Regions from separate parts of the Homo sapiens genome. Here region 1 is linked to region 2. Evidence: fine-mapped expression QTL. A gene starts in region 2. The other region holds a variant in brackets. All regions are shown on one strand. Distances are between the middles of the regions. Region 1 has its middle 26 kb from the start of RABIF. Region 2 holds the start of RABIF (RAB interacting factor).

What was found. PIP is the estimated chance that this variant, and not a neighbour inherited with it, causes the effect.
Region 1: its variant is fine-mapped to the expression of RABIF in whole blood (TOPMed, PIP above 0.99).

Annotation. Positions count from the first base shown.
Region 1 is chr1:202,854,254-202,871,134 of GRCh38, reverse strand. It overlaps the pseudogene TUBA5P and the pseudogene ACTG1P25. Among named protein-coding and RNA genes, the nearest start is that of RABIF, 26 kb to the left of the region's middle. RefSeq lists a silencer at 9,438-9,487. The variant T/CT (reference allele first, on the strand shown) is at 7,524.
Region 2 is chr1:202,884,777-202,892,776 of GRCh38, reverse strand. RABIF (RAB interacting factor) reads left to right here and starts at 3,628. Exons shown (of 2, transcript NM_002871.5): 1 at 3,628-3,804. The coding sequence starts at 3,679. It overlaps KLHL12 (kelch like family member 12), which reads left to right. Exons shown (of 12, transcript NM_021633.4): 12 at 118-1,657. The coding sequence ends at 244. RefSeq lists enhancers at 3,593-3,862, 7,593-8,000 and a silencer at 3,933-4,222.

The sequences.
Region 1 (16,881 bases), 26 kb after region 2:
ACTTTCTTTTCTTTTCTTTTTTGAGACGGAGTTTGGCTCTTGTCACCCAGGCTGGAGTTCAGTGGCGTGATCTTAGCTCACTGCAACCTCTGCCTCCCGGGTACAAGCGATTCTCCTGCCTCAGCCTCCCAAATAGCTTGGAATACAGGCGCACAAACTGCTGGCATTACAGGCATGAGCCACTGCACCTGGCTGAGATTTTGTTTTTCTTATACAATTCAGTCAGTTCTAGATAAAATGGAAACATTAGAGAATAATTTGACACTGAGAAAAAAAATGTGAAAAAGGCTTCTTAAAAACCAAACTTCCAGCCGGGTGTGGTGGCTACCGCCTGTAATCCCGGCACTTTGGGAGGTCAAAGTGGGTGGATCACTTGAAGCCAGGAGTTTGAGACCAGCCTGGCCAACATGGTGAAACCACATCACTACTGAAAATACAAAAATTAGCCTGACATGGTGGTGCATGTCTGTAATCCCAGCTACTCGGGAGGCTGAGGCAGGAGAATTGCTTAAGCCTGGGAGATGGAGGTTGCAGTGAGCCATGATCACACCACTGCACTCCAGCCTGGGCCACAGAGTGAGACTCCATCTCAGAAACACCACCACCAACAACAAACAAACAAACACAAACCCTAAAAAATCCAAACTTCCATAAAAACTTTAACAAAAATTTTGGTCCATAGCTTTCCTTGGATTACTTGATGGATGTCTGAGTTATATCCAATTAAGAAAAGTTTATGATACGGAAAAACATGTTTCTAGGATTGTGGAATGGTTTTCTCTATAAAATGCTTCTTAAGTTTTCAGATTCACAGACAAGTGAGTGCCCTTTGCGTTCCTTCCCTTCCCTGTGTTGTTCCTTTTCCTGCTGAGCCTTCTGAGCCCCAGGAGTCATGGGATGCTCATGTTTCTTTATATTCACTGGGAACTGGGGGTTAGAGGCCCCTACCCAGGGCTGTTGGATAAATTGAGGTTCAGAGGCATATTTGCCAGCACCTATTGGTTCTCAGTCCCCCTTGTCCCCTTTCTCAGCTGCATATTTGCTGTCTATGCCTCGCTAGTGACACACGCGATCCTCGGCTTGTATGCCCTAAGCTTACGCCTGTCATTTTCCTTCTGGTCATGATGGTTTTCATTCTTTGGGTTGTTTAATTCAGCATCTCTCTGGGTGGCATTGGAGGGCAAAAGCCTCCTGAGAACTAGTCTTATTGAGAAAAAGAATAATGTTGTCTAATTCAGAAGCCATCTAAGGGTCAATTCAAATTATGGACTTGAAAATGGTTACTTGGGCTGGGCGCGGTGGCTCACGCCTGTAACCCAGCATTTTGGGAGGCTGAGGTGAGCGGATCACCTGAGGTCAGAAGTTCAAGACCAGCCTGACCAACATGGTGAAACCCTGTCTCTACTAAAAATACAAAATTAGCTGGGCGTGGAGGCGCATGCCTGCAATCCCAGCTACTCGGGAGGCTGAGGCAGGAGAATTGCTTGAACCCGGGAGGCGGAGTTTGCAGTAAGCTGAGATGGCACCATTGCACTCCAGCCTGGGCAACAAGAACAAAACTCCATCTCAAAAAAAAAAAAAAAGAAAGAAAAAGAAAAAAAGAAGAAAATGGTTACTTGGCTGGGTGTGGTGGCTCACACCTGTAATCCCAGCACTTTGGGAGGCCAAGGCAGGCAGATCACCTGAGGTCAGGGTTCAAGACCAGCCTGACCAACATGGAGAAACCCCCTCTCTACTAAAAATACAAAATTAGCTGGGCATGGTGGCGCATGTCTGTAATCCCAGCTACTCAGGAGGCTGAGGCAGGACAGACACTTGAACCCAGGAGGCGGAGGTTGTGGTGAGCCGAGATCGCACCATTGCACTCCAGCTTGGGCAACAAGAGCGAAACTCCGACTCAAAAAAAAAAAGGTTACTTATGGCTGGGCACGGTGGCTCATGCCTGTAATCCCAATACTTTGGGAGTCCGAGGCAGGAGGATCACCTGAGGTCACAGGTTGGAGACCAGCCTGGCCAACATAGTGAAACGCCGTCTCTACTAAAAACACAAAACTTAGCCGAGCATGGTGGCAGGCGCCTGTAATCCCAGCTACTCAGGAGGCTGAGGCAGGAGAATCGCTTGAACCCGGGAGGCAGAGGTTGCAGTGAGCCGAGATCATGCCACTGCACTACAGCCTAGGCGACAGAGCAAGACTCCATCTCAGGGAAAACAAAAAAAAGCTGGGCGTGATGGCTCATGCCTGTAATCCCAGCACTTTGGGAGGCCAAGGTGGATGGATCACCTGAGGTTGGGAGTTCAAGACCAGCCTGATCAACATGGAGAAACCCCATCTCTACTAAAAATATAAAATTAGCTGGATGTGGTGGTGCATGCCTATAATCCCAGCTACTTGGGAGGCCGAGGCAGGAGAATCGCTTGAACCCGGGAGGTGGAGGTTGTGGTGAGCCAAGATTGTGCCATTGCACTCCAGCCTAGGCAACAAGAGTGAAACACCATCTCAAGAAAAGAAAATGGTTACTTATGAAAAAAGGTAGAAAGGAACCAGTAAATAGGGGAGAGAGATGAGGAAAGTTTTGGAAATGAAGATGTATTTTTGGTAAGGCAAGTTATAAAGAGGATAATTTTATATAAAAAAAGGTAGCCGGGCATGGTGGCTCACACCTGTAATCCCAGCACTTTGGGAAGCCGAGGCAGGCAGATCACCTGAGGTCAGGAGTTCAAGACCAGCCTGGCCAACATGGTGAAACCCCATCTGCACTAAAAATACAAAAATTAGCCGGGAGTGGTGGCACGTGCCTGTAGTCCCAGCTACTCGGGAGGCTGAGGCAGGAGAATAGCTTGAATCCAGGAGGCAGAGGTTGCAGTGAGCCGAGATCGTGCCATTGCACCCCAGCCTGGGGGACAGAGTGAGAGACTCTGTCAAAAAAAAAAAAAAAAAAAAAAAGCTTTAACCCTTTAAATCTCAGTTTTTTTAGTAACCAAAATCCTAATAAACATAGCATAGGAATTATCTTGATAAAACGTAAACTCTTGGAGTTTTATTTTCTTGTTTTTTTGTTTTGTTTTGTTTTTTGTTTTTTTTGAGATGGAGTTTTGTTCTTGTTACCCAGGCTAGAGTGCAATGGTGTGATCTTGGCTCACTGCAACCTCCGTCTCCTGGGTTCAAGTGATTCTCCTGCTTCAGCCTCCCTAGTAGCTGGGCTTACAGGCATGCGCCACCACACCCAGCTAATTTTGTATTTTTAGTAGAGACGGGGTTTCACCATGTTGGTCAGGCTGGTTTCAAACTCCTGACCTCAGGTAATCCACCTGCCTCAGCCTCCCAAAATGCTGGGATTAGAGGCATGAGCCACTGTGCCCAGCCTGGTTCATTTTTTAATACTGCCTCTGGCATACCTTGACAAAAAAGGAGGAATATAAACTAAAAAATAAAACCCTAAGCCCCCCAACAGAGCAGACCCCCCTCTTGGCCAAAGAGAATTTTAAAAATACCCTGAAAAAGGCCAGGTGTGGTGGCTCACACGTGTAATCCCAGCACTTTGGGAGGCCGAGGCGGGTGGATCACGAGGTCAGGAGATCGAGACCACCCTGGTTAACATGGCGAAACCCGGTCTCTACTAAAAATACAAAAAATTAGCCGGGCGTGGTGGCGGGCGCCTGTAGTCCCAGCTATTCAGGAGGCTGAGGCAGGAGAATGGCGTGAACCCAGGAGGTGGAGCTTGCAGTGAGCTGAGATCACACCACCGCACTCCAGCCTGGGTAACAGAGCAAGACTCCATCTCAAAGAAAAAAAAAATACCCTGAAAAACTAGTTCAGGTTATGATGGGAAGCTGGGGGTCAGACATACCTCACTACACATTTCCCCTCTTGGGATTCAGATACAACTGGCCAGCATTAACATTAAAATAGAAATCATAAAACTTACAGAACAGATTATTTATGGCAATAAGATATCAAACTATAAACAGGATCTATGACCAGGTGTGGGGTTAAGTCTTCACCGCAACGTAAACAGAGTCATATGTTACATGCATGTTTGTTCAATATACCTGTGTCAGGCAGGCCACTGCCATAAATATTCGTAGCTCCCCTATTCAACCAGGAGACTTAGTCTTATTAAAAACTTGGAAAGAAGGCTGGGCACAGTGGCTCACGCCTGTAATCCTAGCACTTTGGGAGGCTGAGGTGGGTGCATCACCTGAGGTCAGGAGTTCAAGACCAGCCTGGCCAACATGGCAAAACCCCGTCTCTACTCAAAATACAAAAATTAGCCAGGTGTGGTGGTGGGTACCTGTCATCCCAGCTACTCAGGAGGCTGAGGCAGGAGAATCATTTGCACTGGGAGATGGAGGTGGCAGTGAACCAAGATCATGCCACTGTACTCCAGCCTGGGTGACAGAGGAAGACTCTGTTAAAAAAAAAAAAAAGAAAAAAAAAAAAACCTTGGAAAGGAGGATCTCCCCAAAATCAATTACAACTAAAATGAAAGGGCCCTTATTGGGGAGTATTGTTAAGCACGGCACCCCCACTGCTGTTAAGCCTCGGGGACTCACTAGCTGAGTACACCTGTCCAAGATTAAACCTGTTTTTTACAAGTCCCCACAGGCACCTGAGAAAGACACCACAACCTACACTTGTGAACCCCTAGAAGATCTAAAGCTGTTGTTTTGCAAAGAAAGAGATAAGTAACATCCTCAGTCCCTCCTACAGGTACTCAACCTTCTTAACAACTCCCATCCCATACAGGTTTGCACCCCCAACGGATTATACCTGTGGCTATGTGGTCATCCATTCAATCAGCCTATAAATAACTTGTCTCTCATTTGGGATCATGGAAACCCATGGATACACAGTGTATTGATAATGTTTGGTTCGGGGGTCAATGTATAATAGAACAAGCAAAGCTCTTTAATATATAATTACATAACATCACTCACCTGAGAGCTAAGCAGGCAGCTGGCCTTATATTGGCTGGAGTTGGGGCTGCCAGTGGTTTATTGGCCCCGTAGGGAAAATTTGCCTATCCCAAGACAACTCTTCAAAACTTTACTTCATTCTACAGACTGTCTTATAAAATGGGGGAGGCTTTAGATAAATCAAAACTCTTCCTTGATTCCTTAGCAAATATAGCAATGGATAATAGATTAGCACTACATTACTTATTGGTTGAACAAGGGGGAGTATTTGCACTATAATCAATAAACCCTGCTGCACTCGTGTAAACACCTCCAGTCAAATAGAAGAAGATCTACAGAAAATATATGAACAAACTGCCTGGTTGCATAAATATAACCAAGACATCAATCCCTAGTTCATTACTAGGTAGCTTTATTTTAATCATTGATATGCCCGCCTTCAGTTGGATGCAACATTTGAGTTGTTTTGCTAGGGGTAGTGACAGGCAATGAATAGTGACAGGCCATGTCTTAACTGATCAACCATTAAAAGTGCCCTTGTGGCGAGGCATGGTGGCCCACGCCTGTAATCCCAACACTTTGGGAGGCCAATGCAGGTGGATCACCTGAGATCAGGAGTTCAAGACCAGCCTGGCCAACATGGTGAAACCCTGTCTCTACTAAAAATACAAAAAATCGGCCACCTCGTATCTCCTCATTCCCGACATGTCCTGGGCTCCGAACGTCTCCTGGGGAGTGGCATGATTGAATCAGGGATTCCCTAGCCCCAGGTCCCCTTCTCCGTCATGCTCAGGACGAGGCTGCCCAGTTCTCAGGTGCAGGACAACGGACAGAACTCAAAGTCATCCCTCTGCTCACCTGAGACAAATGAACGTCTGATTGCTTCTTCTGCCCTATTGTTTATGCAAAAATGCAGATCCACTGAGCCAGACTAAGGCATCAGCGTGACTATTCCTTTACTCCCCACTCCATATAAATTGTGTATTCAGTGAAAGGCTGATCAAAGACCCAAAAGAATGCAGCCTTTTGTCTCTTATCTACCTATGACCTGGAAGCCCCCACTTCGAGTTGTCCCGCCTTTCCAGACTGAACCAGTGTACACCTTACACATATTGATTGATGTCTCATGTCTCCCCAAAATGTATAAAACCAAGCTGTGCCCCGACTACCTTTAGCACGTGTTGTCAGAACCTCCTGAGGCTGTGTCATGTCATGAGTGTGTGCTCAACCTTGGCAAAATAAACTTTCTAAATTGATTGAAAAAAAAAATCAGCCAGGTGTGGTGCAGGCACCTGTGATCCCAGCTACTTGGGAGGCTGAGGCAGAGAATTGCTTGAACCCAGGAGGTGGAGGTTGCAGTGAGCTGAGATCATGCCATTGCACTCCAGCCTGGGCAACAGAGCAAGACTCCATCTCAAAAAGATGCTCCCTCCTGAGTCTCACTGTTTTTTTTGCCCTTCTTAGGACCTTTGATAGCTGTCTGGTTATTACCAATCTTAGCACCTTACTTGTTTAACTCCTAGTGAAGTTTGTGTCTTCTAGATTACAATTCTACATAATGCTGGCACAAGGCTTCCAGCCCATCCCATTTTCTGACCCAGGAAATAAAGACACCTTTGGGCCCATAGATGGGGCAAACAGATAATTTTTACTTCTCCAATCTTATGCCCATAAAATCAGCAAGAAGAAGTTACAGAAGAATGACCTTCACACCTCATCTCTCCTTAAGATTAAGAGATCTCTTATAAATCGAGGATTATGTTAGGGAAATAGGAGCATAGGAGAGCCAGGTTGATACCATTTTAAAAAACAATTCCATCTAGGGGCCGGGCACGGTGGCTCACGCCTATAATCCCAGCACTTTGGGAGGCTGAGGCGGGCGGATCACGAGGTCAGGAGATCAAGACCATCCTGGCTAACACAGTGAAACCCCGTCCCCACTAAAAATACAAAAAATTCTCTGGGTGTGGTGGCGGGCGCCTGTAGTCTCAGCTGCTCAGGAGGCTGAGGCAGGAGAATGGCGTGAACCCGGGAGGCGGAGCTTGCAGTGAGCCGAGATCACGCCACTGCACTCCAGCCTGGGTGACAGAGCGAGACTCTGTCTCAAAAAAAAAAAAAAAAACAACTCCATCTAAAACCAGCAAGGCATATTCCTTGCCAGTCACCACCCGTGGCCATAAGATGTTTTGGCTAAGGGAGCAGTTTAGTAATGCCTGCGAGGACAAACTCCTATGACAGCAGAATGTCCAGATGTCCTGACATTGAGTAATAATATATGGTTTTAAGATAGTTATAATCATGCTTTGAGGTACTTACACACTCAAATGCCAAGGATAACTTTCTTTCAATCAACAAACTCCTAAATTGTCATGCTGTCAGCCCACCAGCATGTAGACATAACTTAGCTTTAACATGGTTAAGACCCCTACATAAGAAGAGTTTAAAACAGGGATGGCACGTTCCTCCTCTTGCTTTCTAAGGACACCTTACTCTGTAACTGAGTAGCTTTCAATAAACTACCTCTTACTGTGCACTCTGTGACTCGCCTTGAATTCCTTCCTGCGTGAGATCCAAGAACCCTCTCTTGGGGTCTGGATTGGACCCC[T/CT]TTTTCCAGCAACAATGAGACTCTTTGAATTTTGGAATATTTTAAATTCCTGAAGAGGTATGTGAAAATGGTGTGCCTGTAATGGCAAAGGAGTTAAGTAGGGTGATATAGAGTAGAGGAGGAGGAAAAGTTAGAAATAAAACTCTAAGATAGAAGGCAGTCTGGATAATAGAAATAACTCCAAACAGCTTATAAGAGGATTAGTTTTCATCAGTTTGATGTAAAGAAGTGCACTGCCAATGGCGGGGATGGGGGATTGTGCAGCTTCCATAAATAACACTGAATGTCACTGTTTCAAATGTATTTATAATCCCTGGGTTAGAGTCAACTCAGGAATGGAAAGACATTTTTAACTGGCTGACTCTACCAGCAGGTGGAATGAGTGCTTCATGAGGTGAGGCAAGCAAGAGATGATAGTGTTGAGTTTATGATGTTTTGAGTTTATTACTAGGTAGCTTTATTTTAATCATTGATAGGCCTGCCTTCAGTCGAAGGCAACAACTCAAATGCAACATTTGAGTTGTTTTGCTAGGGGTAGTGACAGCCAATGAATAGCCGTGTCTTAACTCTATATACATGAGGTTTCAAAGCACTTATTTGGATGTTTGCCCACATTCTCTCACCTTATCCCCTAACCAGAGGCGTCTACTTTAGAGCTGGCAGCCTCATGAAGCCCATTAACAAGGATTGAGACCAAAGAATACTTTACAGACTTTGAAGTTAACCTCTGCACTCTGGACTTAAACCTTCTTGAGTCACCTGACCAAGCATTTCGTTTCAAAACATTTCAGGAAAGTTTTGAATGACATGGCTAGAGTCTTGTGTAAAAATGGGTGCAGGCATCCAGGGGACAGCTGGTCTGATGTCACAATGGCCAGTGACAGGGTCTTCCTGAGTTCTATCAGCAGAAAGTCATATCAGCTGCAGATTTTCCTCAGGTAATTCAAGTCTCCAAGCCTGATTCTATACAAACTGGATGCAATCACCTGTCCACTGGGAAGTGGGGATGAAGAGGAGATGGCGATGCTTTGGGTTCCTCCGGAATGTGCCTCACAAATACTAAGGGTAATCACTGGGCGGGGTGGCCAATCATTTGATAAACCAAACACCAATTAACCCTCCCAAAAAGAAAGGAGCTAATTTGTTACACTTAGATATTTCGAAGTAAAACGTCTCAGCTAAGGAAAAGTTTGGAAAAAGGGAAAAGTATGTGAATGCTCTTTAGCATGGAACAATATGAAACCACCACTGGAAAAAAATAATGCACAAGTAACATCTAAGTACTGCTCAGAATGCTGCAGTGATCACATCACTCCTCTGCTCAAAACCCCTCGATGGTTTGAAATTATATGCCAGGGAAATTATATGCAAGCTCTCCAGCCTAGCATTGAAGGCCCCACGCCTCCTTTTCACCTCCACCCTACAGGCCCTCCTCAGTCTGCTTTGGCCAGCCCGGACCCCTTGCTCTTGCAGGAACCCGAGTCACCTGAACCTGAGCAGTTGCTCCGGTCAAAAGGGAAGTAAACGTCAACTACCGGCGCCTGCAATGTCCTTTCCCATGCCTGTTTGCCTATCCTACCCACCCCAGCCGCATTTTGTCCCGCTCTGGAAACTCCCAGCAGTCGGTTCTCATCACAGCATCTTTCCTTCTGCAGTGGTTGCTGAACTTAAGTATGCACCCTTCTCCAAGGCCGACACACTTTTCGAATCAGGTCAGCGGTGTCACTGGTGCAAAGTCCTAAAACTAAAACAGAATGAGGGTGTTTCCCCCAAAGATTCCACCTCGTAGACCCAGCACTCACCCCAATAGAGAAGACGGTCGAGCTGGCCGGGAGGACGCGGACGCCCGACTCTGCCTCCCTTTGGCTTTACCAACTGCCCAATGACCGCTGCGGCGGGGCTGTTTCGTAAGCGGCTGGCCAATAGCGGAGAGAGGGGCGGGCCTCGGTGGGGGCCTGGCCCAGTGAGAGTCGCGCGGGGGACGATCCGATCTCTGTCCAGCTGCGACCCAATGGGAGTCCCCGCCAGGAGACACAACCGGCGGCTCTCCGGGGATTTATAAGGTCCCGCCAGCAACCGCGCGTTGGGATTCGTGGTGTTGCTGGAGACCCGTATGGTGTCTGCAGTCAGCGACCCTCCAACTTCAACTACTGGATCAACCATGGTGAAGGATGCTGTGCGGGGGAGGGTGTCGCACGATGGGGAGGATGCCGGGGGCGCACGGGGGGTCGGTGGGAAGGGCCCGCAGCGCAAAACGGAAGGGCGCCCCGGCAGTCCAGGGTGTGGGGTGGGCTGCGCGGGGATGCCAGGGGTGTTTGGGCGTTCAGGGCGAAGGTGGGCTCTGCAGAAAGCCCGGGGACGCCCGAGGAGTCCCGGCACCACTTTTCTACCCTGCTTCCCCTACGGGAGGCGGTGCGAGCTAGAAACGTTCTGAGCGCCCCAGAAGCGCTGAGGGACTAGGGAGGCTGGCGAGCGGTAAAGCGTGGGCGAGAACATGGTGGGGTCGTTTGTGCGCTGCGCTCAAGGTCGGGCAGCGGAGTCGGCTCTGCGGCAGAGCGCGCTCTGGAGCCTGGAGGGGATCTAGGGCCCGCCCCGTATTTCTCCCGCTGCGGTCCTGGACAAAGAGGTGCCCGCTTGTAGCTGCGGTCCCCGCCTCCCTCTGAGATCACATTGCCGCGCAGGAGGCAAGGTCCAGGATGATTGGGAAGCTCTAACAGGTTTCTCCAGTTCAAAACCTGTTCCCCTGAATGTCTTTGTCTTGGGCGCCCGACTCTGGCCAGAGGTAGAGGTCCTCGCCCTTTGGCCCCATACTTGACTAGGGATTCCTGTAAGCTCTTGGGGCCTTGAAAAGAATGTTCTTGACTCCACTTTTCTCCTGTTTGGTGCCCAAGGACTTGAGGTCCCTCTGTTAAAACTGAGAACTTGACTGGCCAGGCGCGGTGGCTCACGCCTATAATCCCAGCACTTTGGGAGGCCGAAGCGGGCGGACCACCTGAGGTCGGGAGTTCGAGACCAGCCTGACCAACATGGAGAAACCCGTCTCTACTAAAAATACAAAATTGGCCAGCCGTGGTGGCGCATGCCTGTAGTCCCAGCTACTCGGGAGGCTGAGGCAGGAGAATCGCTTGAACCTGGGAGGCTGGGGTTGCGTTGAGCGGAAATCCCGCCATTGCACTCTAGCCTGGGCAACAAGAGCGAAACTCGGTCTCAAAGAAATCAAAGCAAAAAAAAAAAAAAAAAAAAGCCTGAGAACTTGGGGTGGGTACACAGAGGTCCCTGTACCCCCCGGAAACCTCTTGATCCCTGCCTGTGCTCTGAGCCCCCTTAAAGGCTCTGAGGCTGTCTTAGAGGGTAGTTCCTAAGACTGTTAAACTGTTGCCTACTGTCACCCTAGAAGATCCCTTCTACATCTGGGAGGTGCTCGGCCCTTTTAAATTGACCCCCTAGACCGTGGGTTGGGTGAAGGACCAGAAGAAGGGAGGAAGGGTTTATCCATCATAGGAGTTACCTGAGTGAAAAGAGTCGAAAGGTAGGGTGGGTCTTCTGGTCTCCGCTGCGACGCTTAATTTAGGAGTACTGACTTGGATTAGCTTGCCTGTACTGCAGTTGGCAGGGACAGGTGTCTAGAGTAGGTGCCTGTCCCCCCAAAAGGGGAGTTTGTGGGTGAGCTTTCAGAAGGCTAGCTCTAACTCCAAGGCTGCTTCCTCAGTTGATCCACAGGTCTGAACTTAGTCTTCTGCCCTTTTGGGATGTGGGGGAGACAGTTGCTGCCCATGGGAGACCTCCTCTTCTAGGCCCCAGTGCTTGAATCTAGAAGCTCTTGGTGGGCCTGTCTTGGAATACAGGACTCTGAGCTTTCCCAAGGCACCCCAAACAGCAGGGAGGACACTGTGCAGTGGGATTTGGCTATTTGGTTTTGGCTTTCTCTAGTTCCTGCCCCAGAGACCTAGGCATAACCACCTTCTTAAGCTCTGAGTGAATGAAGGAAAATGAGGGCCTGAAGGTGGTTTGGCTTAAAGTATGGGAAGGCTTGGAAAGAGAACCGAGTCTTCTGGACTTTGGTTTTTTGGTTTGTTTTTTGAGATGGAGTCTTGCTCTCTCGCCTAGGCTGTAGTGCAGTGTTGTGATCTCGGCTCACTGCAACCTCTGCCTCCCGGGTTCAAGTGATTCTCCTGCCTCAGCCTCCTGAGTAGCTGGGACTACAGGCGCCCACCACCACATCCGGCTAATTTTGTATTTTTAGTAGAGGTGGGGTTTCACTGTGTTGGCCAGGATGATCTCGAACTCCTGACCTCAGGTGATCTGCCTGCCGTGGCCTCCCAGAGTGCTGGGATTATAGGTATGAGCCACTGCACCCGGCCAGTCGTCTGAACTTTGGACTAGGTAACACTAAGCTTCAGCCTTTAGGGAGGAAAGACAAGGGGTGCTCCCAGGGAAGGCTTTTCAAGTCCCCACCTTTTCACTCCACACCACTCATGCCCTGGCATATTCCTCTGCTCACCCTCACAGTGTGAGTGCATCTCCATCCATGTGGGCCAGGCCGGAGTGCAGATGGGCAATGCCTGCTGGGAGCTGTACTGCCTGGAGCACGACATCCAGCCCAGTGGCACCATGCCCAGCCACAAGGCCCTGGGGAGCAGTGATAACTCCTTCAACACCTTCTTCAGGGAGACCCAGCCTGGCAGGCATGTGTCCTGGGCTGTCTGTGGACCTGGAGCCTGCTGTCATAGGTGAGTGGACGGAGGAGTGGGGGCTCCTTCCCCCAGGCCATAGTTTTTGCTAGCGCCAATGTCAGATGGGAGCTCTGCTTAAGGGGAAAATACTTGAGATGGAAGCAGTCCCCTGCCATGAACAGCATTGAAGTCTGAAGTCTATTGCTTTTGTCTAGACTCTGTCCTCAGAAGAGGTCCTGGGGGCTTCCTATATTGAGAGGAAGATCATTCGCACAACTCTGCCAGGAAACTGCCAGATAGGAGTCAGGGATCAGGCCTAGAACGCAGACTGCAGAAAGGAGCAGATGTAAAAGCAGAAATTTAAAACTTGCTTTTCCCTGTCCTCAGACTCTTGAGGGTGGCCCATTGCGTAAGAAGCAGGGAGCCAAGAACATTCATACTGGCCTCCTGCTTAGCCTTAACTGAAATAGGCCCCCCCCACGTAGGATGTGGGCCTATGTGAACTTGGCTGTTGCTGGCTTCCGGAGGCTTTCCTGCTTCCTCCCTTCTGCATCTGGATCTCCTCTGTTTTCTAATCGTGACAATTCTACCCCTCCTCCATTTTTTAAAGCTGTTATTTTAGATGTTAAATGGTGCACTGGGTTTCTTCATTAGTCTGTATTCTTTTTTTTTTCTTTTCTTTTTCCATGGTGAAAATTTACATTAGTCTGTATTCTTACCCTATTCGAAAGTGAAGTGAGATTCTCCTTAACACCACTCTGATTCCTCACCTAGCACAATGAAGTCGCTGTAGAGGGAAGGGACCACTGAAGGTGCCACCTGCTCTCCCCGTCTCAAGCCCAGGCAGGACCTGGCCTTAGAAGTGGGTCTCTGGTCGGGAGGCTGAGGCAGGAGAATCGCTTGAACCCGGGAGACAGAGGCTGTGGTGAGCCAAGATCGCGTGATTGCACTCCAGCCTGGGCAACAAGAGTGAAACTCTGTCTCAAAAAAAAAAAAAGAAAGAAAAGAAAAAGAAGATGCCGTGCATCATCACTCTGTTGAGCAGTTGTACCTGGGGAGGCTTAGCAGCAAAGGTTCTGGTGTCTGGCGTTCCCTTGGGGAATGAACCAGCTTGTCTTACCTTTGTCCTTTCTTCCCCTCAAGATGGGGTAAGAACTGACATTTATAGGCAGCTGTTCCACCCTGAACAGCTGATATCTGGCGTGGAAGATGCTGCCAACAACTGTGCCCGTGGCCACTACACTGCGGGGAAGGAGATCATCGATTTGGTGCTGGAGTGAATCTGAAAACTGGTGAGCAGGCCTCTGGCACCTACAGGAGGTCGTTGCATCCTTAACCCTCTTCCTGGCTGGGAGGCAACCACAGCCTGTGCTGGTACCTGACATCATTCCTCCAGCCTGTCAGTCCACTCAGCTTCTCTTAAGGGGATATGTGTTTTCTGTCCTGGGTACGGATCTAGGGTTGGAAGCCTGAATAAACTGCTCTGCCTTGAGTTTGTGGACTCAAGCTTCTGCCCTGATGGTTCCTCGCTTTGCCAGGTCTGTCTGATCCAAGCCTTCTTTGACCTTTGATCCATCTCTACAGCAGCTCAGCTTGTTGTTCTTAGACTCCTATGCAGATCTGTCCAGGTGGGAGGGGCTCCTGTTTAGCACTCAACCATTTCACCAGTTCACCCTTCCCCTATCCGAGGCATTGAGAACCACCAGTGAGGCTGCCTGTGAGCCAGGACTTTGGCCCTGTTGCTGTAGGGGGATTGCCTAGACATACTCTCTGCTGCTCGGTAGAGACTGAGGACTTGGAAGTGACCTGAGGAGTAGGATTCTGTGCTCCCTTCCTCAAGAATGAAAATAAAATACCTCCTAGGGGTAGACTTCTTTTATACTGTCACTACCATGTGTCTGGTATAGACTGATGATTTTCTTACCCAAGAAACAGCTGTATCAGCATCACATGGGGTACTTTTTAAAGCTGCAGGTTCCTGGGTTCCAGTCTGAGGTGAGGCCTGGTAATCTGTATGTTCAACAGGATGCCACCACCACTCCCACTCTGCTGTAACTAGGGGGCAGGGCAACAAAACAGAGAGGGCCTGGCTCTCTGAGTGCAAATCATCCGTCCTTCCTCATCCCTACCATTGCGTATGCACAACACTGCCTTTCCAAGTCATCTTTTCCCTAGGAACTCCAAACCTCCTGTAGGTGATCTTTTTTTTTTTTTTCTTTTTTGAGAGAGTTGCTCTGTCGCCTAGGCTGGAATGCCACTAGTGGTGCAGTCACAGCTCACTGCAACCTCTACCTCCTGGGTTCAAGTGGTCCTCCCGCCTCAGCCTCCTGAGTAGCTGGGACTACAGGTGCACACCACAACACCCAGATACTTTTTGTATTTTTTTGTAGAGATGGGGTGTTGCCATCCCAGCACTTTGGTACGCCAAAGTGCTGGGATTACAGGTGTGAACCACCACACCTGGACAGGTGATCTTTTTTCACCTCTATGGAGGCGAAGCAAAAGGACACAAAGGAACTTTCTCGGGGTGATGGGAATTTCTGTATCTCTGTTGGTTTGGTTATATAGGTGTCTACGCATGTCAAATCATTCATTGTATGTCCAAAAGATGCACACACTTAAGTATAAACTATACTTCAAAGTCTTTCTAAAATACAGAAGTGAATGCAAGTATAGTTAGGTAATAGTAGCTTTCAACACAGAAGCTTCCTCAGGAGAAGAGGGTTGGGACGGGTGACATGCCATCTACATCCTTAATGATGTTATTGCCTGCTCCAGACAGACCAGTGCACCATGCTTCAGGGCTTCCTGATCTTCCATAGTTTTGGGGATGGCACTGGCTCAAGTTGGAATTTGCTATCTACCCAGTCCCCCAAGTGTCCATGACAGTTGTAGAACCCTATAACTCTATCTTGACCACCCACACCACCCTGGAGCACTCAGACTGCCTTCATGGTAGACGAGGCCATCTATGATCTCTGCTGCCACAACCTGCGCCCTACCTATACCAACCTGAACTGGCTCATCAGCCAGATTGTGTCCTCCATCACTGCTTCCTTGTGTTTTGATGGTGCCCTCAACGTGGACCTCACAGAGTTCCAGACCAATCTGGTGCCCTACCCTCGCATCCACTTTCCCCTGGTGACCTACTCACCCATTATCTCAGCTAAGAAGGCCTACCATGAGCAGCTCTCAGTGGCAGAGATCTCCAGTGTCTACTTTGAGCCCTCCAATCAGATGGCCAAGTGTGACCCTCGCCACGGCAAGTACATGGCCTGCTGCCTGCTCTACTGTGGAGAAGTGGTGCCCAAGGACGAGAATGCCACCATTGCCACCATTAAAACCAAGCAAATATTTGTTTTGCGGACGTGTCCCACAGGTTTCAAGGCAAGTGGGGGTAAAGGGCAGTTAGCACATGGCCTGTGTACCTGCTAAGACGGGAGCTTCCTGCAGAGGAGGTGTGAGGAACAAATGCACAGGATCTCACTGTCACCCAGGCTGGAGTACACTGGCGTCATCTTGGCTCACTGCAGCCTCGACCTCCTGCACTCAAGCAGTCCTCCTGTCTCAGCCTCCTCAGTAGCTGGGACCACAGGTTTGTGCCACCACACCCTGCTAACTTTGTATTTTTTTGGAGAGGTGGGGCTTCACCATATTGCCCAGGCTGGTCTCAGACTCCTGCGCATGGGTGATCCACCTACAATGGCCTCCCAAAGTGTTACAGGTGTGAGCCACTGTGCCCCGCTAGAGGATTCCTTTAACTGGATAGGTCTCAGCTGGTCTAGAAGCCAGGCCTTTGGACTGTAAGCCAGCGTGGGTTCTACTTGAAAGATTGCCTTGATGAAAGGAAAAGTATCAATTTCATCTTACTTAGCCTGGTAAAAAGGCGTTCCCTAGGGCTGCCAGTCACATGGGGAGAATGGCCTCCTTGTCACTTGTGCTAGGGACATAACCACGTGCTATAGGCTCCTGCTCAGAAGGGAAGGCTTTCAGAAGCCAGAGAGGCCCATTATCAGATGATGGGGAAAGTGCGGATCAGAAGGTCAGAGGCTTCTTGTGTTCTGCGTCTGGATGCGTTCTCTTCCTTTTGCGGTAATAAGGAAGAAGCACGCATTTATGCCCCACCCTGTTATCAGTTGACCTTCCCAGGGTGCTGGGCATATGACCTAGTTTGTTTTTTGGGTTTTGTTGTGGGATAAGACTCCAGAAAGATTAAAGATGGCAGCTGTGGCATTAGAAAACATATATAGCGGCTGGGCGCAGTGGCTCACTTTGGGAGGCCGAGGTGTCCGGATCACAAGGTCAGGAGATGATCGAGACCATCCTGGCTGACACGGTGAAACCCCGTCTCTACTAAAAATACAAAAAAAATTAGCTGGGCATGGCGGCATGCCCCTGTAGTCCCAGCTGTTGGGGAGGCTGAGGCAGGAGAATGGCGTGAACCCGGGAGGCGGAGCTTGCAGTGAGCCAACATCGCGCCACTGCACTCCAGCCTGGGCAACAGAGCAAGACTCCGTCTCAAAAAAATAAAAATAAAAAAAGAAAACATATATAGCTTTCCTGCCCCATGACACTGCTGTGGACATGACCACAACAGGAGGACAGGCAGGAATAATAGCTGCTTGCTAGTGTGGAAGAGTTGTCCTGTAGCTCAGAAATGGAAATGAGGGGTAGGCTATCTGGGA
Region 2 (8,000 bases):
ATTCCCTCCTGGGCTTAAGCAATCCTCTTACCTCAGCCTCCTGCATAGTTGGGATTACAGGCACGTGCCACTGCACGCAGCTGACTCATTTCTTTCTTTTGCTTCTTTCCCACTCAGATATGATGGTAATTCCCTGCTAAGTAGCATTGAATGTTATGACCCTATCATCGACAGCTGGGAAGTCGTGACATCCATGGGAACCCAGCGCTGTGATGCTGGTGTTTGTGTTCTCCGCGAGAAGTGACCATTGTTGGAGCACCATCCAGAGCTAGTGACCAGTCCAGTGGACAGTTAGTGGGAGAATCAAAAATCCTTTCCAGAATGTCTGTTTCTCACTATGTGCACCGGGTGATTACAGGCACCAGTGCAGTGATGATTGTACTTATTTGACACATACTCCCCGTCGTCCTGGTTCTTGTTCCTGAGAAGGGTGGGTAACAGATATTCCAGGAAAAAGAATGCACATTGAATGGATGTGAGAGACCACATTGCCTCTCCCACTGCTTTGGGGAGCACTTTCCTGTCATTTCTAACTTACCACATGCTTGGTGTACTATATGTATGTTGTGCCTCATATGTTGCAAAGAACTAAGGTGAGTATAGCCTACTAGATATGGGCAATATCCAGCCTAGATGATTGGAAAGATACCAGTTTAAGTAAACTTGGTAAAATCCAAGTCTTTTTTTTTTTTTCCAGGAACAACTACATTTTCTCATATACAGGTAGCTAGGGGCAACACAGTTCCATTCTAGAGGGAAACAAAAGGGAGAGCCCCACAAAACTTTGGGGACAAGGGAGAGAGAGACTCATCTGACACTTCTTTTGGAGGTCAGGATTTGTATATCAGAATTGAAGTTAGAATTAAGTGAATTAAACTGAATTTGATTGTGAGTGAACCTAGAACAGCACTGAAGTATTACATAACCTGGAAGACTGAGAAGGGTATATTATTTGAAGGATCTTTTTATTTCCCCGAGGTCTTTCGCACTGGAGACAGCATAAAAGAGTGAACAAATGTTGGGATGAGAGAAGATGACATCAATGTGGGAGTTCAGTATAACTGGGGATAAACTAGAAGAACCTGTGATTTTACAGTCATCTTATTACCTGCCAGGGCTCATCTAGCCATGGCAATGTTTGCCTTGAATGGGGGTGAAAGCCTTTCTTTGTTGGATCAAATACTACTACACTATTACACTTCCACACTATTTATTTGGGGATGGGCTGGGAGTGACAGTAGCCTAGTAGTTCAGCTACCTGATTACTGCCCCATTCTTTTAGAAGCACATGTCTGCCAAGGAGTGGTTTGTACTGCTGTGTTTGGTACATCTAGTCTTTTTTCTGCTATAAGTTTTCCTTACCTGTCCTTTAGTGTAGATTTTATTCATCACAGGACAGAATAATCAAGGACAACCAAAATCCTTTTGTTAGTTTCAGTACCTCAGCTATCAACATTTCTGAGCTACCATTCAATGTTCCTCTGTGTCATGGAGTGAAATTCTTGTTTTGTGGGTATTAGGAGTGTGGGAATGTGATAACCTAAACAACCTTTGCTCTGAAATTCCATTTTTCCCTCTTTCCCTGAGTTGTATTGACCTACAGAGTTAATTTCCTTTGTATTTTTTTAAGAAAATATTAAAAATCAACGGTCTCAAATGCCGAGAGTTTGTGGCTAACCAACATTGCCTTTAGTAGATATTTGGGAGGGAAAGATGTAGGGATCAGCCGTAGCTCCTGTCTCTTCAAGCTGTTCATCTTGTGTGTTTGCCAACTAGTTCCGCTATTTCTATGTTAGACACAGGTAAGAGGTAGCCACTTTACACTTTGGAGATTCTCATCAGTAAAATATTTACCTGATTTGCCATATTCATTAGCCCCTCTGACGCTTGGAGTTACTTGAAAAAGGAATACAGAAAAGATCTTGAATTCACTTAGCACGCGCTTGAATTTCAGGGTTTCAGTCACACCAGTCCTTTTTTCCATTTGCTTTGAATTGTGGCATGTGATATAAACAGCTATGCGGAAGGCCTGCAAAACTGAAACAGTCCTGATGCTTCCAGAGCAAAAGGAAGGAGGAGCCACATGAGGAAGTTATTTTCCTTAAAAGATGCCTACCAACTTTGGCAGATGGATTGTGCATGCTAATTAAACCAAAGCCTATAAAACGTGACTTTTCCTATCTCAGGAAGAGATCCAGGGGAGGGTGAAGGACTGATGGCTCCTATGCTGTCTTCAGTGCTGACTAATGAGTTTCAGACCAACTTCACAAATAGTTCATACACTGAAGCCACAATGGTATGTTCTACAGAAAAATCAACACGTAAAACAGCTCCTTTTTCACTCTTCACAATCGTACACACTTTCATGTGCTCACATACATACACAGAGATACCCCTAATTTGGTGGTTCATCTTATTTTTTTAAGCTCCCATAACTGGCAACCAGCTACTTAGTTATCTAACCTGGGAAAACCAGCAGTTGCTTTGTGTCACCCCCATCACAATACAGACATCCAGCTAGTTTCTAAGTTCTGTACAATTTTAATTGTTTCAAGTCCATTCCCATATCTTTGTTCCCTCTGCTAGCTTCAGGGCCTTTCTGAGCTAGACTGATGAGGTAATAGCTACCTGATACCTTACCTCTACTCTTTTTCCTCTCTTCAATCTAGCCCCTCTATTTATTCATAGGTTATCTTTCTGAAGCACAGATAGGATCATTACAGTGCTTAACATACAGCAGACAGTAAATATCGAACAGTTATTTCTGGCCTAAAATTCCACAGATTCCCATTGTTCATGTTATTAATGTTAAATTCCTTAGCATGACATTAAAGCCATGGAGCTCTGGGCCCACTCTGCCTTACCTACCTCTACTACCACTTCTCCCCACGTGTAATGTGGGTCAGCCACAGTGGTCTACTAACCATTCCTAAATTTGTTCTCACCCTTGTTCATATATAATACTGTTCTGTCTGAAATAATCTTGCTTTCCTGACAATCCTAGTTAATTAAGAGCAGTGGCTTTAGAGTTGTGCTGCAACCTTTCTGATCTTTACCTTTCTCATTTTGTGCACAAGCGTGCCGACCCCGTAAGGAAACTGATGATTTAGTAAGTTTCTAAAGGCGCTTTGACACATTTTGCCGCATAGTAAATGGTCACAATGAGTAGAAGAGACCAGCAATTAAAGTTTCCACGCATCTTTTTCCAATACCGAAAAGATACATGCCCCTCTAAGTAGTTTCCTATAGAAGAAGCTAATGTGGCTAAAACTTGATGGGAAGTCCGACCCAGATTCCCTTCATATTGCCCCCAATAATGTCCCCATTTATTCAGGAGACTAAATTCAGATCCCAGAAAACTAAACAGTAAGGTCAACCTAATGATTTGTCTAGGTTTTAAGTGAAGCCCAGTGGCCAGGTGGGTATGGAGATGTGTCACTGGTGCCAAGAAGTGTCCCTGTCACAAAGCCTGCCGACACCTAGCCACTTAGGTTAGGCAATGAATGAAGGCGCTTGCGCAGTAGAGTCCAGAGCGGGGAAGCGGGCGCCTGCGCAGAGACATAGTGACCGTCCGCTCGCCGCCCCGCCTCTGCCAAGCCGCGCCAGCGCAGTGAATAACGAGCCAGCAGAGACAGCGTCTGCGCAGCCGTGGCTGAGGAGCCTGTGGCGGCAGCGGCGATGGAACCAGCGGAGCAGCCGAGCGAGTTAGTGTCAGCCGAGGGCCGAAACCGGAAGGCGGTGCTGTGCCAGCGTTGCGGCTCCCGGGTGCTGCAGCCAGGGACCGCTCTCTTCTCTCGCCGACAGGTAGGGAGGCAGGTTGGAGGCCGTTTACACCCACAGTCTCCCCCGACGAGCCGCCGCAGTCAGAATCTGAACCCCGGCTCTTCAATTTCCGGCAACCGCGCCCTCCTCGCGCGGCCTTAAGCCCCGCCCCTCGGGCCTCAGCTCGGCGAGGCTCCGCCCCTGGGGCCGCTGAAGGCTAGGGAGGGAACCGGGTCCCGCCCCGGCATCTTTTGCCGCGGGAACCCTTCCCTGGGCCACCCGGCCCAGCCAGCCCGGCCCTCTGCCCCCGGGGGGGCTTCGAGCGCGGGCCGTGCGCCCCGCCGCCGTCCAAGGCCGGTGCTCCGCGGGCGCGTGGAAGGGAGGCGCCCCATTCCGGCTCTCGGAGCTCCCGCCAGCTTGCAGGACCCGGCAGGTGCCTCTCGGCCGCCGCTCACCGCGGGTGTTGCTGGGTTCCTTTCCCACTTTAGACCTCACCCGCCAGTCCTGAATTCACCGTCTCATTTATGACGGGCACCTATCTGCTCCACAGAGGATCCCCAGGAACAACTGGTGTTGGGGACGCGGCAAAATAACCCTGGTAACCTACCCACTTTACCGAGGCACTGGAAGCCTGTGGTTTTCCAGATGAATCATATTTCAAGTGCAGTAGATCCCTGACGTCCTGGAAGTAAATTTCGAAGAAAAACTTTTTTTTTCCCTTCAGTTTAGGGATTTTAATACCCTTCCTACCACCATCATCGCAAGTGAGAAAGTTGAAAAAAAAATTTATTTCGGTAAACTGTGTTGAAGTGCAAATATAATGTCATTTCAACCATAGACACATCCTATCATTCAAAATTATTTCTAAAAATATGCAGATCATTTTATTATTTCACGTGCTTGAACAGATGGTGAAGTGTAATGTCTAGTAGAAGAGCAAGAGGTACCCATTCGTCCAAAACAGCCTTTCATCAAAGGAGGAAAAAAGGGAATCTGTGTCTGTTGTTTTGTAGGTATTTTGATGACTTTTGATCTAGAGATTGGTGGAGGTCCCGGGGTTCTTTTAAGACTTCAAGGTTTAGGAGTAGAGTTCTCAATTAATTTTACGAAGTTAGTGGCATTATGGAGTCAGTGGAAAGAACATGGATCTTGGAATTGAAACATACATGGAATTGAGTCCTGACTATCATTCATTAACATTAAAACAGTTAGGCTGGGCGCGGTGGCTCATGCCTGTAATCCCAGCACTTTGGGAGGCCGAGGCGGGCGGAACACCTGAGGTCAGGAGTGTGAGACCAGCCTGGCCAACATGGCAAAACCCCATCTCTACTAAAAAAAAAAATACAAAAATTAGTTGGGGGTGGTGGCACAAGCCTGTAATCCCAGCTACTCGGGAGGCTGAGGCAGGAGAATCGCTTGAACCTGGGAAGCCGAGGTTGTAGTGAGCGGAGATTGAGTCACTGCACTCCAGTGTGGGCAACAGAACGAGACACCATCTCAAAAAAAAAAAAAAAAAGTTATTTAACCTCCATGAGATGCAGGTTGCTATTGTGTAAAACAGGGGTGTCCAGTCTTTTGGCTTCCCTGGGCCATATTGGAAGACTTGTCTTGGGCCACACAAAATACACTAATGATAGCTGATGAGCTTAAAAAAAAATTGCAAAAAAAAAAATTTTTCATAATGTTTTAAGAAAGTTTCCGAATTTGTGTTGGGCCGCATTCAAAGCCGTTCTGAGCCATATGCCGGCCGCGGGTTGGACAAGCTTGTAAAATGAAGATGATGATAGAGGGAAGAATTTGTATAAAAGCACTTAGCACTGTGCCGAGTATATAGCCCATAATATAGGTTAGTTCCCATACTCCTTTTCCATGGCAAGGTTTTGTCTAATTTTATAAACTGACATAAATTAAGAGACTTCTAAATGGAGTTTATAGTTTGTTTTAAAATTCTTAATTGTTTTTTCTTTAAAAAAAAAAAAAAAAAACAAAACATAGCCCACACCTGTAATCCCAGCTCTTTTGGGAAGCTGAGTTGGGCGGATCACTTGAGGTCAGGAGTTCAACAACTGCCTGGCCGACATGGTGAAATCCCATCTCTACTAAAAATACAAAAATTATCTGGGCGTGTTGGTGGGCACCTGTAATCCCAGCTACTTGGGAGGCTGAGGGGCAAGAATCGCTTGAACCCGGGAGGCAGAAGTTCAAGATTGCACCACTGCACTCCAGCCTGAGTGACAGAGCGAGACTCCGTCTCAAAAAAAAAAAAAAAGAAAAAAGAAAAAAACATAGACGCGCTCACTGTATTGCTCAGGCTGGTCTCCAACTCCTGGGCTCAAGTGATTCATCCACCTTGGCCTCCCAAAGTGGTGGGATTACAGGTATGAGCCACCGTGCCTGGCCAGGATCTTTCTTTTGTTTTGTTTTGTTTTTGAGATGGAGTCTCCCTCTGTCGCCGAGGCTGGAGTGTGTGGCATGATCTCGGCTCACTGCAACCTCCTCCTCCCGGGTTCAAGTGATTTTCCTACCTCAGCTTCCCAAGTAGCTGGGATTACAGGTGCACGCCACCATGCCCAGCTAATTTTTGTATTTTTAGTAGAGATGGGGTTTCAGCATGTTGGCCAGGTGAGCCGCTCCGCCCGGCAGGACCTACCTTCTGCCCTGCCCTGCCTTCCCCTCCCTCCCTTCCCTTCCCACTCCCCTCCCATCCCCTCCCCCTCCCCTCCCTTCCCCCGCTTTCCTTTCCCCCCTTCCCTTCCCACCTCCCCTCCCCTCCCCGTTCCCGTTCCCCGTTGTGCTCTGTCAAAAGCATGACTCACTGCAGCTTCCAACCAGTCAAAATTCTTAATTCTTGTTTGATACTATTTTAAACTGATTTTGCCAAAAATTGTGTGAGCAAATTAAATTATATATGTTACATTTCTTTTTGTTTCTCAACGAACACAGTGGTCCCTATTCTAGAAAGGGGCCTAAGAATTTTTTTAATGCATTTTATGTGTTTTAAAATGTTTTCCCTCTTTTAAAAAGGCAAAAAGGTGGGTTTTTTTTTTTTTGGGTTGTGTTTTTTAACAATGGCTTCAGTATTTCTGGAAATTTCCTATTTCTTGAGAAAGAACTGTTGGAAGAATCCTATCCCTTTTTCTGGACTCAAGCAACTCAGCTGTAATCCAACCCAGTGTTCTCCTTACTGTCAGTCCTAATTGTTTTCTCCTTTCTTTTCTCAAATACTAATTTGAGCAAAAATATAACTTCTAGGACATGATGTAAATAGAAGGTAGAAAATTTCATGGAAGATTCTAACCAGTTATTTATTAGTCCTTTCCCTGCTCTGTGTCACACATTTTAAGGTGGGGAAAAACAGTTCCATCCTTAGAGAGAACAAGCAGCTTCTGAGATGCTGAGCTCCTTAACTAAAGCTTTGGGGTAAACCCCGTAAAGGTTCGGGGTAGCTCTTTTTTCTCATAACTGTGACATATTGCAGATAAACCACCATTAGGGCAATTACAGCAGGGCTGTTACTCATCTCTGCAGGTGTTAAAGGAGCGCTCCCAGCCGTTAAGCCTGCAGAAAGGTGTAAGGAGTCTGGCTAGAGGTGGCCTACAGCTTTCTCTCTCGCTCCACCCAGTGCAATAGCCTAGTAGTCTGCAGATGGGAACAGTTGGAGAACTAGATTGCCAGTCCTACCTTTGAGGTGATCCAGGGCCTAGGAGTTACTGTATCTTATATTCCAGAGTTCTTTAGTCTAAAGTAGTGTGTTTCTCGATTCCTCCCGCATCCCCAGACCTCCAGAGGACATGTAGCAATATCTGGAGACATTTTTAGTTGTCAGAATGAGGGAGGTGTGCTACTGGCATCTAGTGGGTAGAAGCCAGGGTTGCTGTTAAGCATCTTTTTCTTTCTTTTCTTTTTTTTTTTTTTTTTTTTTTTTTTTGAGATAGAGTCTCACTCTGTTGCCCAGGCTGGAGTGCAGTGGCACGATCTCTGCTCACCTAACCTCCGCCTCCTGGGTTCAAGAGATTCTCCAGTCTCAGCCTCCCGAGTAGCTGGGATTACAGGTGCCCCCACCATGCCCAGCTAATTTTTTGCATTTTTTTAGTAGAGATGGGGGTTTCGCCATGTTGGCCAGGCTGGTCTTGAACTCCTGACCTCAGGTGATCCGGCCACCTCAGCCTCCCAAAGTGCTGGGATTACAGGCATGAGCCACTGTGCCCGGCCCGAACAATGATGTATTTTGCTCAGGA